Regions from separate parts of the Homo sapiens genome. Here region 2 is linked to region 1. Evidence: fine-mapped expression QTL. Tissue or cell type: whole blood. Region 1 holds a variant in brackets; the other region holds the start of a gene. All regions are shown on one strand. Distances are between the middles of the regions.

Region 1 (8,514 bases):
GTCGCCCAGGCTGGAGTGCAGTGGCGCAATCTCGGCTCACTGCAAGCTCCGCCTCCCGGGTTCACGCCATTCTCCTGCCTCAGCCTCCCGCGTAGCTGGGACTACAGGCGCCCGCCACCATGCCCAGCTAATTTTTGTATTTTTAGTAGAGACGGGGTTTCACCATGTTAGCCAGGATGGTCTCGATCTCCTGACCTCGTGATCCGCCCGTCTCGGCCTCCCAAAGTGCTGGGATTACAGGCGTGAGCCACCGCGCCCGGCTATTGGGCCCTCTTTTAAAGTTATTTATGTAGTACTTTTTTAGTGTACACTCACACGAAATGAGAGATACCATTGGGAGCTGTCAAATTAATATGTCCCTCTGGAATGGACTGCTTATAACCACAGTATACATCAGTGTTAAAAACCAGCTTATAATCATTCTCCTCAGCCCCTATGTGCACAGAGATGTTTCAGCATGAAATATAGTACCTTCTTTCTCTTGCATAAGATTCCCTCTTGACTTCCATTTCTGCCTGTTTTGCTAGCAAGGCAGCAGCTTTGGCAGCCTCTACTTCTTCCTTTGTCTTTGCAAAACGAGCAGCTCTCTCTGCACGGTCCTTTAAAACATCATTAAATACCAATTACCTTTACTGCCAGAATGGTTAATTCACACAATTCCAAACAAATATGCATGGAATTTTTTTTTTTTATTAAGAGACAGGGTCTTGCTGTGTCATCAAGGCTGGAGTGCAGTGGCACAATCATAGCTCACTGCAGCCTCTGAACACCTGGGCTCAAGCAATCCTCCCACCTCAGCTTCCAGAGTAGCTGGGACTACAGGTGTGTGCCACCATGCCCAGCTAATTTTTTTTCTTTTCTTGTAGAGGTGGGGTCTCACTTTGTTGCCCAGGCTGATCTTATACTCCTGGCTTCAAGCAATCCTCCCACCTCAGCCTCCCAAAATTCTGGGATTACAGTTGTGAGCCACTGTGCCTTTGCTGCCTGAAATTGTCTAACACCATATGTGAACTTTAACATTCTGGAACTGTTATTTTTTAGTTTTATCAACTGTCGGAGACCAGAATTATTATTAAGGAAACAAGGAAATGAATTTGCTCACTACTGTATCTCCAAAGCCTGGAACAAGGTCTGGTACATAATAAATGCTCAACAAGCCTGGGTGTGGTGGCTCACGCCTGTAGTCCCAGCACTTTGGGAGGCCGAGGTGGGTGGATCACCTGAGGTCAGGAGTTCCAGACCAGCCTGACCAATGTGATGAAATCCCGTCTCTACTAAAAATACAAAAATTAGCTGGGCATGTTGGCATGCACCTGTAACCTCAGCTACTTGGCAGCCTGGGACAGGAGAATTGCTTGAACTCGGGAGGTGGAAGTTGCAGTGAGCCAAGATTGCGCCACTGCACTCTAGCCTGAGCAACAAGACTAAAACTCCATCTCAAAAATAAATAAATAATAAATGCTCAACAAATACTTGTTGACTGACCAAATGAACAAAAATATTAAGGTAGGGATGGCTTTTTTTCTTTCTTTCTTTTTTTTGAGATGGAGTTTCGCTTTTTGTCGCCCAGGCTGGAGTGCAATGGCACCATGTCAGCCTACTGCAACTTCCACCTCCTAGGTTCAAGTGATTCTCCTGCCTCAGCCTCCCAAGTAGCAGGATTATAGGCGCCCACCACCACACCCGATTAATTTTTGTATTTTTAGTAGAGATGGCGTTTCACCATGTCGGCCAGGCAAGTCTTGAACTCCCGACCTGAGGTGATCCGCCCTCCTTAGCCTCCCAAAGTGCTGGGATTACAGGCGTGAGCCACACCTGGCGGGATGGTTTTAATATGTATTGCAGCTGATGAATTATAAAAGCAATTGTTGCAAACTAAGCTTTATGATGTGCCTAAATCCTTTCAATGTTGCAAAAAAGTGTGCCTGTGACTACAGAAGAACTACTAGGTACTTAGTACTAGTAGTTACTACTAGTAGGTACTTAGTACTAGTAGTAGGTACTAGTACTTAGCTTATTTTCTAGGGAATCTTTAAAAGCTGCTTTTTGAATGCTGATAAAAGTCATAAATTAACAAAATATGAATAAAAATCACTTCAAAAAAATCAACTCAATTTTAATCTTAACTATTTTAATTCATTTACAATTTCTAATAAAAGGAAGCTCAGGATTGGTAGTCTATGAGTCACTAAAATCTATTTTTGTGTGCACAGTCTGGTAGTAATCTAAAGCTACTGTGCACAGAAAAACAGTTTCACGAATGTCTGGAAACTTAAGACTTACCAATGCAATCTGCTGTTTTATACGTTCTCGAGCTGCCCTATCTTCTGCTTTCTCTCTGTTTCTTTCCTCCAGCATTCTTTTTGTTAATTCTTCTTCTTGTTTTCTTTTATAATCCAACATTTCTTTTCCAGTTTTTCTCCTCTCAATTTCCTTCTTAATTTCTCTCTGAATTAAAGAAAAAGTTTTATGATCCAAAAACTTGATAATCTGCCCCAGATATTATTTTGAATGCAACGAAAACTGCAGTTAAAAGAATAAAACTTCATAAAATGTAAGTCTAGACGAGTTTATTAATGGCATGGTTAATGGTCAAATGTCTATCAATCTATAAATCATTGCCAATGGTCTGTTAAGATAATAATGTAGTCAGTGTAATTTGAAGGCAAGCATAATTACAGGTCTTTAGTCATGAGGGTAAATATATTACCCTTCAGGGACAACATGGCAGTCACGTATTTGGCTTGAATGAAATGGTAACCTTCCTATATTAGAACTCCAAAGACATGCTACACAGTTAGGTATACATGGTGAGAAAAATGAACCATGTGCTAGAATGCTTAACAGGAGAGGAAAAATTCAGCAAAATGTCTATACATTTTTTCACAAAAATGAACTAAAACTTTGTTCAACCTCAAGCCAAACATTTTAGCTCAAGTCCCTTTATTCTTAGTGTAAAAAAAAATCATTGCAGAGGGAAAAAGCATGGTCTAATTTATTCATAGTAATTTACGAAAAGAACACAAAAAATGTATATACTATGACTCTACTAGAGAAAACAGGAATTATCTTCATAGTGCTGCAACACTGAACTAAAACTATGAAGTCACCCTAGGCCTGCCACACTGAATAGAATAATCAATCACAACCTCAGTTAATGAGAGGACAAAACAATGCTAACTGCATGAACTTTACCTGTTCTTCCTCTTTTCTTTTCTCTTCTCTCCTTTCTTCAAGTTTTTTTGTTAGTCTGTATTAAAAAAAAAAAAACCACCACTAATTGAGACACATCATATTAATATAAAACACATTTAGGAGATGGATTTAGCTAAAACAATTGGAGAAATAAAGAAACAAACAAACAAAAAGCAAGCAACTATTTATCTGCCTGGCTTCAGGCCCCTACAGAAATCCTGGAGTCAACGAGAGCCCATCAGAAGCCTAGCTTCATTCTAAATGCCTCACTTCCCACTTATGATTAGTTTCCCTTTTTTTCTGATTTACCTGATATTGACTTTAAAATCTACAAATACATTTTCAAACAAATACATAAATCAGTGACTTATAAATGCTCTACTCCTTATATAAAACTAAACAGCACTATGGTAAAAAAAAAAAAAACCTGTAAAAATAAAAACTTAAGGCCAGCAAATTATTAATACCAAATTACTAACACCAACTTGATTCTCAACTGTAAGAAGTTCATCAGTTAAAAATGAATGGAGGCTGGGCACAGTGGCTCATGCCTGTAATCCCAGCACTTTGGGAGGGCTGAGGTTGGTGGATCTCTTGAGCTAAAGACCAGCTTGAGCAACATGGCAAAACTCTGTCTCTACAGAAAACACAAAAATTAGCCAGGCATGGTGGCGTGTGCCTGTAGTTCCAGCTACTTTAGGGGCTAAGGTAACAGAATTGCTTGAGCCGGGAGGTCGAGGCTGCAGCGAGTCACGTTCGCGTTACTGCATTCCAGCCTGGGTGACAAAGGGAGACCCTGTCTGAAATAAACAAACAAATGGAGGCTGGGTGTGGTGGCTCACATGTGTAATCTCAGCACTGCAGGAGGCTGAGGCAGGAGGATAGCCTAAGCCCTGGAGTTCGAAACCAGTCTGGGTAACAACTTGAGACCCCATCTTTACAAAAAATAAAAAATCAGGCTGGGCACGGTGGCTCAAACCTGTAATCAATCCCAGCACTTTGGGAGGCCGAGGCAGGCGGATCAATTGAGGTCAGGAGTTTGAGACTAGCCTGGCCAACACGGCGAAACGCTGTCTCTACTAAAAATAGAAAAACATCTGGGCGTGGTGGTGAGCGCCTGTAAACCCAGCTACTCGGGAGGCTGAGACAGGAGAATCGCTTGAACCTGGGAGGCGGAAGTTGCAGTGAGCCGAGATCATGTCACCGTACTCCAGCCTGGGCGAGAGTGAGACTCCGCCTCAGGAAAAAAAAATAATAATATAAAATCAGCTGAGCATGGTAGTGTAATGCAACGTAATGAAACCCCATCTCAAAAACTAATAAAATCGGCCAGGCACGGTGGCTCATGCCTGTAATCCCACCACTTTGGGAGGCCGAGGTGGGCAGATCACGAGGTCAGGAGTTTGAGACCAGCCTGACCAACATGGTGAAACCCTGTTTCCACTAAAAATACAAAAATTAGCCAGGTGTGGTGGCATGCGCCTGTAATCCCAGCTACTCAGGAGGCTGAGCCAGGAGAATCGCTTGAACCTGGGGG[G/T]CGGAGGTTGCAGTGAGCCGAGATGGTGAAACTGCACTCCAGCCTGGGAAACAAAGTGAGACTCCATCTCAAAAAAATAAAAAAATTTAAAAAATAAAATAATGATTCTGAAATTAGACAGTGGTAGTGGATGCACAACCTTGTGAATATACTAAAACTCACTGAATTGTACACTTTCAATTTCATGGTAGTGAATTATATTTCATTTTTTTAAATGAAAATGGTATTTTCTCTAAAAGTGTTTGGTGTATACCAAACTGAACAATGTGTGCCAGCAATCAAGGGAGTGAGTACTGTCAAAAAGCCAGAAGACCCAATATGAAGGGGATTCCAACAAGTCAAATTTGGGGCAATTTGTGCACCAAAAAGAATAGAGAAATGGATAGTAACACATGAGAGAAAAAAAAGCATCTGTGACATGTCTTAACTGCTAAGGGGAACTGTAAATTGGCCTAACCACTTTGGAAAGCTGTTTGATCACTATGTATAACCCAGAAATTCCCGCTTCTTCATATATATGCCCAAAAGAAATGTGTACACATGTTCACCAAGACATATACAAGAATATTCCTCATAGCAGTTCTATTCAAATAGCCCCAAACTGAAAACAATCCTAATGTCCACCAACAGTAGAATGGATTAATAAATCAAGGTAGAGTCAAACAGAATACTATAAAGCAATGAGAGTGCACCAATTACTGTGACATGCAACACGGATAAGCCTCAAAATACAAAGCTGAACAAAGGAGATCAAACACAAAAATACACGTTGCATGATTCCATCACAAAGTTCACAAACAGACAACTAACCTACAGTGTTCGATTCAGGATAGTGATCATCTTATGGAGGGAATCCATAATTGGGAAGGGGCATTAGGAAAGCTTATTAGGCACTGTTAATTTTCTTTCTTTCATTTTTTTTTTCCGAGACAAGGTCTCACTTTGTCGCCCAGGCTGGAGTGCAGTGGCACGATCTCGGCTCACTGCAACCTCTGCCTCCCGGGTTCAAGTGATTCTTCTACCTCAGGCTCCTCAGTGGCTGGGACTACAGATGCACACCCCCACGCCCAGCTAATTTTTGTATTTTTAATAGAGACAAGGTTGCACTGTGTTGGCAAGGCTGGTCTTGAACTCCTGACCTCAGGTGACCCGCCCACCTTGGCCTCCCAAAGTGCTGGGATTACAGGCGTGAGCCACCATGCCAGACTAGCACTGGTAATTTTCTATTCCTTCATCTGGGTGCTGGTGTCCAATAAGTAGTTTACTGGAAAAAGGGGGCGGGGGTGGGCAGATGGAAAGTAGAGGGGGTAGATCAAAGCATTTCTCTACAGAAGAATGCTAGCTGATAAATGTAGAAAAAAACAGAATGAGAAAAATACCACAATTTTTAAACATCAATGAAATAGGTGATTACAGCAAAAATCAATGAATGCTGAAACCACCGGGTGAAGTTTTTAAGCAGTAGGATATTTACCATTTGAATCACCCCATAGACAACTTATATATTAGAAAATGAAAAGGGTACCCAACAGACAACATCCTAACCAAATAATTAAACTTTACAGCTCCAATAATGCATACATCTCATATTACTTGTCTCCTGATATGAGTAATGGAAAGGACAAAACATTATCTTGGTAATGTTCTTATCAGAGTTTAACCTGAATCTAATGATAGAACAGGGAGCAGATCAAAGGACATTGTAGAAACAACTAACCTAGACTCTTCAAAATGTCTAAATCATGAAAAATGCAAACAAGAAGTGTCTTGGATTCAGAGCCTAAACTAAATGCAATGAACAATCCTTGACTGGATCTTGAATCAAGGGAAGAAAAGTTAAAAGGGCCATTATTGGAGCAACTGGGAAATCTGAATACGGACAAATTAGATAATCTTACTGTATCAATTGAGAATTTCTTGAGTATGATAATGGTATCGTGCTTGTATCTGAAAATATACACCATCTGAAAATGGTGTATAAACGTATTTATAGACCATCTGTAGAATTTTCTTCTGAGAAATACAAACGCAAGTTTGTTTTAATTTGGGTGAAAAGCTACACTGCATCTAATTTAATAACAAATTGACTGTTCCATAACTTCTACATTTGGGCTTCGACTTTTTTTTTTTTTTGAGATGGCTTTTCTCTCTTATTGCCCACGCTGGAGTGCAATGGCATAATCTCAGCTCACTGCAATCTCTACGTCCTGGGTTCAAGCAATTTTCCTGCCTCAGCCTCCCAAATAGCTGAGATTACAGGTACCCACCACTACGTCCGGGTAATTTTTGTATTTTTAGTAGAGACAGGGTTTCACCATGTTGCTCAGGCTGGTCTCGAACTCCTGACCTCAGTTGATCCACCTACCTCGGCCTCCCAAAGTGCTGGGATTACAGGCATGAGCCACTGTGCCGGGCTGGCATCTACTTCTTAATGGTCACTATGCCTGCTTGGGTGCCAGAAGGGGGCAGGACATGGGTCTGTGAGCACAGATCCCCAGATCCTGGCCTAGGATGGAGTCCCTGCTCAAAGCCCACAGACCCTCAGCCAATGTCTTCCTAGGAGCTGCATGCTGAGGTATCTAGGCATGAAGTGAAATTATGTCTGCAACTTTCAAATGAATCAGAAGAAAAAAAAAAAGAAAAAAATTAAAAGATGGCCATTACACTATTTTTTCAACGTTGAGGTTTGAAACTTATTCAAATAAAAAGACTAGAATTCATGGTAGTATATATTATCTTTGCCAGATAATTCTGCCCATTTTAAACATAATGACATGGCTGGGTGTGGTGGCTCATGCCCGTAATTCCAGCACTTTGGGAGGCCGAGGCGGGCAGATCACCTGAGGTCAGGAGTTCGAGACCAGCTTGACCAACATGGTGAAACCCCTGCCTCTACTAAAAATATAAAAATTAGCCGGGTGTGGTGGTGGGCACCTGTAATCCCAGCTACTCGGGAGGCTGAGGCAGGAGAATCGCTTGAATCTGGGAGGTGGAGGTTGCAGTGAGCCGAGATTGTGCCATTGCACCCCAGCTTGGGCGACAAGAGCAAAACTCCATCTCAGGGAAAAAAAAAAAAAACATAATGAAATAAACAAAATAATGCATTTTAACTAAAGATTCGCTAAAAGATTCCTATTTCACATCTGTTACTTTAGTGAAACATTGTATATCCTGGCCAGACGTGGTGGCTCAAGCCTGTAATCTCAGCACTTGAAGAAGCCAAGGCGGGTGGATTATTTGAGGCCAGGAGTTCGAGACCAGCCTGGCCAACATGGCAAACCCCTGTCTCTACTAAAAATACAAAAATTAGCCAGTCATGGTGGCGCATACCTGTAATCCCAGATACTCAGGAAGCTGAGGTACGAGGACCACTTGAACTGGGTGGAGGAGGTTGCAGTGAGCCGAGATCATGTCACTGCACTCCAGCCTGGCAACAGAGCCAGACTTCATCTCAAAAACAAACAAACAAAAAACCATCACAGGCGAGGTGCTGTGGCTCACACCTGTAATCCCAGCACTTTGGGAGGCCAAGGTGAGCAGATGACCTGAAGTCAGAAGTTCAAGACCAGCCCAGCCAACATGGCGAAACCCTGTTGCTACTAAAAATATTTTAAAAATTAGCCGGGTGTGGTGGTGCATGCCTGTAATCCCAGCTACTTGGGAGGCTGAGGCAGGAGAATCGCTGGAACCCGGGAGTCAGAGGCTACAGTGAGCCAAGATCATGCCACTGCACTCCAGCCTGGGCAACAGGGCAAGACTCTGCCTCATAAATAAATAAATAA
Region 2 (5,000 bases), 27 kb after region 1:
GAAAATCACAAGTTCTGACTTCAGAGTTATGAAGAAAGCTCTAAGCAATCTGTAAGTGTTTTGGTTTCATGAGTCCAGTATCTACATACTCCTAGAGTGACACTAATCCTACTTAGTCTTGGGGATTAACTGGCTAAAGCTCTAAAAAAGCTAGCTGGATTTTGGAACAGGTCAAGGGACAGACAGAGACTCCTTTGTGAGATTGCTAACAGTCTTCCTGCAAACATTCAAGAGTCATTATATTCTAAATACATGTAATACATGCTCATCAGTAAAAACTTAATTGAAGAAAGTATATATATATACACAAAACCCCGAAAGGCAAGACCTATAACTTTATTTAACTATTCCAATAATTTGTACTAGAGTTTCCAAATATTAATATTTGTTAATAAAAATCTCTCGTTTCTTTTTTTAAATTAACTGATTTACCTCAAGAGTGCCTTCTAGGAATGTTTGGACATTTGTTCAAAAACATGACTACCATAATCCAAATTTCTGATTTCTATACCAATTTAAATCACCAATTTACAAATTGTTCAGTTTTTTCCTTAAGAAACAAAAAAGCCAGTTTTTTTGAAGCTACTAAAAAATTTGACTGTTAAGACATGTAAATCCTTTTTGTGGCCCTAGTGCAAGTCACTTTATGACTGCTGACCTAAGTGCCTCATCTATAAAATGGGGATAATTAAACCTGTTCTATTTACTGCAAGGATCAACTGAGATATTAGGAGAAAAACAATTTAAAATGTCAAAAACCTACTAATGTACACAATAAGCATAGTGTCATTTACTTTTCCTTTCATTTTCAATCCATTTTTTTCCTTACGGGATTACAGAATTAATTTATGTAAAGTATAATATAACCCCCAGACAGCATCACAGAATCTAAACTATTCAAGCTCTTCTAATAAACAGCATTGAGCTAAAAACTTGGCGTAACAAAACAATTATAAATTCCAAATTTAATGCTAAATGACATTCACATTTCAGTAATTCGTTCTTCACTGCAGTGCATAAAGTTATAGAGCTATTAAAAGACGAGTTAATTATGAATAAACCGTTATTAAACACAAATAGTTGAAGAAATACACCTCAAATTAACAACAGCCACAAACATTGATTTGGTCCATGTAATGAGTATGAGCAGAACCGTAGAGGCAGGGAGTTCACTGTAAATCTACAAGATTTCAGTAATAAAACAGGAGAATATGGAGCAAAATAGCCTAGAGCAACAGAGAATATATGAGTTAATAAACGTTCTCAAAGTCGTGTAGATTTTAGCCTAAGAAGACAACAAAGGGAAGAAACCAAGGACTGAACGTCTATTTTCTTTGAAACTAATGGATTTTTTTTAAACTTACATTATTTCACACTAGATCCCCTACCAAGACTGCCATAAAGAAAAATTAAACCTCTATTCAGCTCAAAAGTTTACGTTTCAGGAACGTACTAACACCAGTAACCGTGAACATCAGGTGGTTTCTCTTTGTTGCTTATCGATGACACAGCTTTCTTCCCGACAGTCCACAACTAATTACAACCCAACTGCTTGCCTAATGGCCCGTTCCTACCTCCATCTAAACAGCAGTAACGAAACGGGCGTTCAAGCAGCACAAAGAGGGTCCTTGGTGACAGAGAGGGACGTCAGGGAGAGGGTCGCGGGGGTCTGGCTGCGCAGGGGAGAGGCTCGGGGCGACGAGCGGGGCTGGGCGGCTGGGGCCTGCTGGCCGCGTCCGTCGCCCCGAGCGGGGAGATTTCGGCGGGCCTCGGGGCGCTTTGGAGACCAGGGCCAGACGGTGCCTCCGGCCCGGCTGCCGGGAGACGCAGCGGTGGGGCCAGGCCCACTGTATCTCAAACGAACCGGGGAGGCGCTGAACAGCCACGGGCCGGCAGCCCGGGCCTCGCAGACACTGAGGAAAGGCTGGGGGCGCCCGGGGCCTGAAGGAGCAGGGCGCTGAGGGTCTGCATGGCCCCTCTGGGGGATCTGGCGGCGGAGTCGCAGCCGTCCCTGGGGCGCGGGGTAGTAGTGGCAATTGTGCGAGCCGACAGGAGCCCGCGTCTCGGGGAGGGCGGGCCGGCGGCTGAGGTATACAAGAGGATGAAGGTAGGCCGGAGGGGTGTCCCGGCCGCCTCTCGAACCCCTGCCTCCTTCACCTGCCACGAACACCACGAAGACCGCGCCGCTCCTTTTGGCCGTCGCGATGGCGGCCGGAATGGCGCCCTGGAACCACAGCATCGCTCCCTTCGGGCCCAGGCGCTCGCTCGGTGTGTAGTCTCCGCAGTCCCGAAGCCGGCTCCGCCCTCCGTCTTCGTCCGGCTCTGCGGCCCCCGCAACCTTGGCTGGTTCGGCCCCCACCTCCGGCTCCGCACAAGCGCGCACGCCCGTCAGCGGCACCCGGAGACGCGCGCTAGCGCGCGCGAGAACACCTCACGTCACAGTCGCAACCCGTCGGTGTCCGTGCCCCAGGACCTTCTCTCGTTGGCGAGTCGATGGTGCGGGCGCGCGCCCGCTAGGCCTCCGGTCGCGCAGTCCAGGAAGTGGAGGAAAGCGGTAAGAGGGATGACTAACCGCTAAGACACGTCGGCGGCGCCTGCAGTGAGGCATGATGGGAATTGTAGTCCACTTAGGCTTATTCGCCTCCATATTGTGGAGCATGTAACTGTGGGTTCTGAGGCACAGCTAAAGGGGGCAGTAGTGAGGGCCACTACACATTCTATAAAGGGGAGAGGGAGAAATAAGTGTCACTCCAACTGGCATATGCTATTCTCGGCCTCGTTGAGACTCTCAGTGTGGAGGAAATAGTCCTCGCATGGAACTAAATGGGCTTTGTCGGGATTAACTCCGAGGCTTTGATTTCTTCTGAACGTAGCCCAACCTTGCAGAAAAACGGGATAAAAACCGCAAGTCACCTTCTTTAATAACCTGTAGTCCATGTGCCTAAGCGGAGGAATTGGTAGAACGCAGGCCTTCAGCAATTTCCTAGACACTGGATAGAGATCATTTCAAAACTTCAAAACGCGTTAGGCTATTGCCACAGCTACTTTTTAAAGTAACACAAAGCAGAGAATAGATTATTTCTTTTCCAGCTACTTTCCATGGTAATACAAAAGAGACTAGATAGTGATTTATTTTCCAATTTTCTGGGAGAATGTCCTATAATCAAGATGTGGCGCTTTGTGATTGGCTGCCATTAAATGAAAACTGATCCATATTTAATACTTTCATGAAATCACATGGTCTGTAATAACTATTAGCTAAAGGCTTGCATGGTTTATTTAAAGTTGCATATACTATTATGTTAAATTCTACATCAATTAAATTTATCCTCCAGCAGTACATCTATCTGACAATCTTTGCAAGATAAAGGAAGTGATACATCTGAATATACCACCTTTCCTACAGATATTTTCCCTAAAAATAGCTAATTATTTGCACTCCGATTTTTGTACTTTTTTTCCCAATCAGGCCTCTCGTATATAGTGTTATTATAAACTGAGACATAATGCTGATTAGGGACAGTTGCTTCTATAGGACAACAATCCTACAGAAAAATTAGAATTGACCTTTAACATCAACTTTAATGGACTTCTGGAAATTTGATCAATCTAGAAATTATTCCAATAGAGCTATGTCTTTAATTATCTCTAATTTTAGAATTAAATAAGAATCCTTCATAGTTTTATATTCATTTGTCAAGTGTTTATCACTCATCTTTTATGAGCTAGGCATTGTGCCTGGCACTGATAAGGAGGTGAGGCAGTCAGAAGAAGGCCCTGTCTTTGTGACTGTACAGTCTAGTCAGGAAGACAGACATTGAATAAGTAATTATGAGTGATGATAAATGTCACAGAAGGGTAATTCAGAGTGCTACAGAAGTGTATGAGGATGGGACCGAACATGGGCTAGTGGAGTCAGAAAGGGCCTTCATGAGGAAATGACGTGTCGGGGAACTCTAGGTAGGTGAAGGAGAAGGCTATTCCACATGAGGCTCTGAAGCAAGCAAACACAGTGCACTTGCAGAACTAAAAAATGCCCAGTGTGGCTATAACATAGAAAGAGGAGTGTGGTACAAGTGAGGCTGGAAAGCTAGGCAAGGATCAGATGATACAGAGTCTTGAAAATCATGTTAAAAATTTTAAGACATTTTTCTAAGGATTACAGGGAGCCATTGAAAAATTTTAAACAGAAGAGTTGGCCAGGCACAATGGCTCATGCCTGTAATCCCAGCACTTTGGGAGGCCGAGGCGGGCAGATCATGAGGTCAGCAGTTCAAGACCAGCCTGACCAACGTGGTGAAACCCCATCTCTACTAAAAATACAAAAATTAGCTGGGCGTGATTGCACATGCCTGTAATCCCAGCTACTCAGGAGGCTGAGGCAGGAGAATCGCTTGAACCTAGGAGGTGGAGGTTGTAGTGAGCCAAGATGGCACCACTGCCCACCAGCCTGGGCGAAAGAGCAAGACTATATCTCAAAAAATAAATAAATAAACAGATACATATAAGACTTCCATTTTTAAATTGTATGATAGCAATTGAATAGATTGGATTTGAAGTGGAATGGCTGAATGTGAATAGACCAGGTAAGAGGTACTTATTCATGTATTAACATAAGGGAGATAGTGAAGTGGATGCTTTTGATATTCTGGAGACAGACCCAATATATTTTGTTGATTACATGTGGAGGTTGAGGAAGAAGGACTCAAGAAGGGATTTTGTGGCCAGGTGTGTTAGCTCATGCCTGTAATCCAAGCACTTTGGGAGGCCAAGGCAGGAGGATCACTTGAACCCAGGAGTTTGAGGCTGCAGTGAGCCATGACTGCACCGAGCCATGACTGCACCACTGCACTCCAGCTTGGGCGACAGAGCAAGACCCTGTCTCTAAAAAAAAAGAGAGAGAGAGAGATTTGGGGTATCTGCCTTGCAAAATCGTAAAGAAGATGGTACTGAGATAGGCAACACTGAAAGAAGTGAAGGATGGTGGGGAGGTTGTTCAT

Evidence for each region. PIP is the estimated chance that this variant, and not a neighbour inherited with it, causes the effect.
Region 2: it holds the start of UBXN4, and the variant in region 1 is fine-mapped to the expression of UBXN4 in whole blood (INTERVAL, PIP 0.96).

The regions. Positions count from the first base shown.
Region 1 is chr2:135,764,505-135,773,018 of GRCh38, reverse strand. UBXN4 (UBX domain protein 4) reads right to left here. Exons shown (of 13, transcript NM_014607.4): 7 at 3,196-3,250; 8 at 2,284-2,448; 9 at 472-599. Among named protein-coding and RNA genes, the nearest start is that of UBXN4, 27 kb to the right of the region's middle. The variant G/T (reference allele first, on the strand shown) is at 4,733.
Region 2 is chr2:135,739,169-135,744,168 of GRCh38, reverse strand. It overlaps UBXN4 (UBX domain protein 4), which reads right to left and starts at 2,314. Exons shown (of 13, transcript NM_014607.4): 1 at 2,158-2,314. The coding sequence starts at 2,239. It overlaps LOC107985946 (a long non-coding RNA gene), which reads left to right and starts at 1,525. Exons shown (of 1, transcript NR_163478.1): 1 at 1,525-3,340. RefSeq lists a silencer at 1,727-1,776 and enhancers at 1,073-1,848, 2,177-2,236, 2,567-2,696.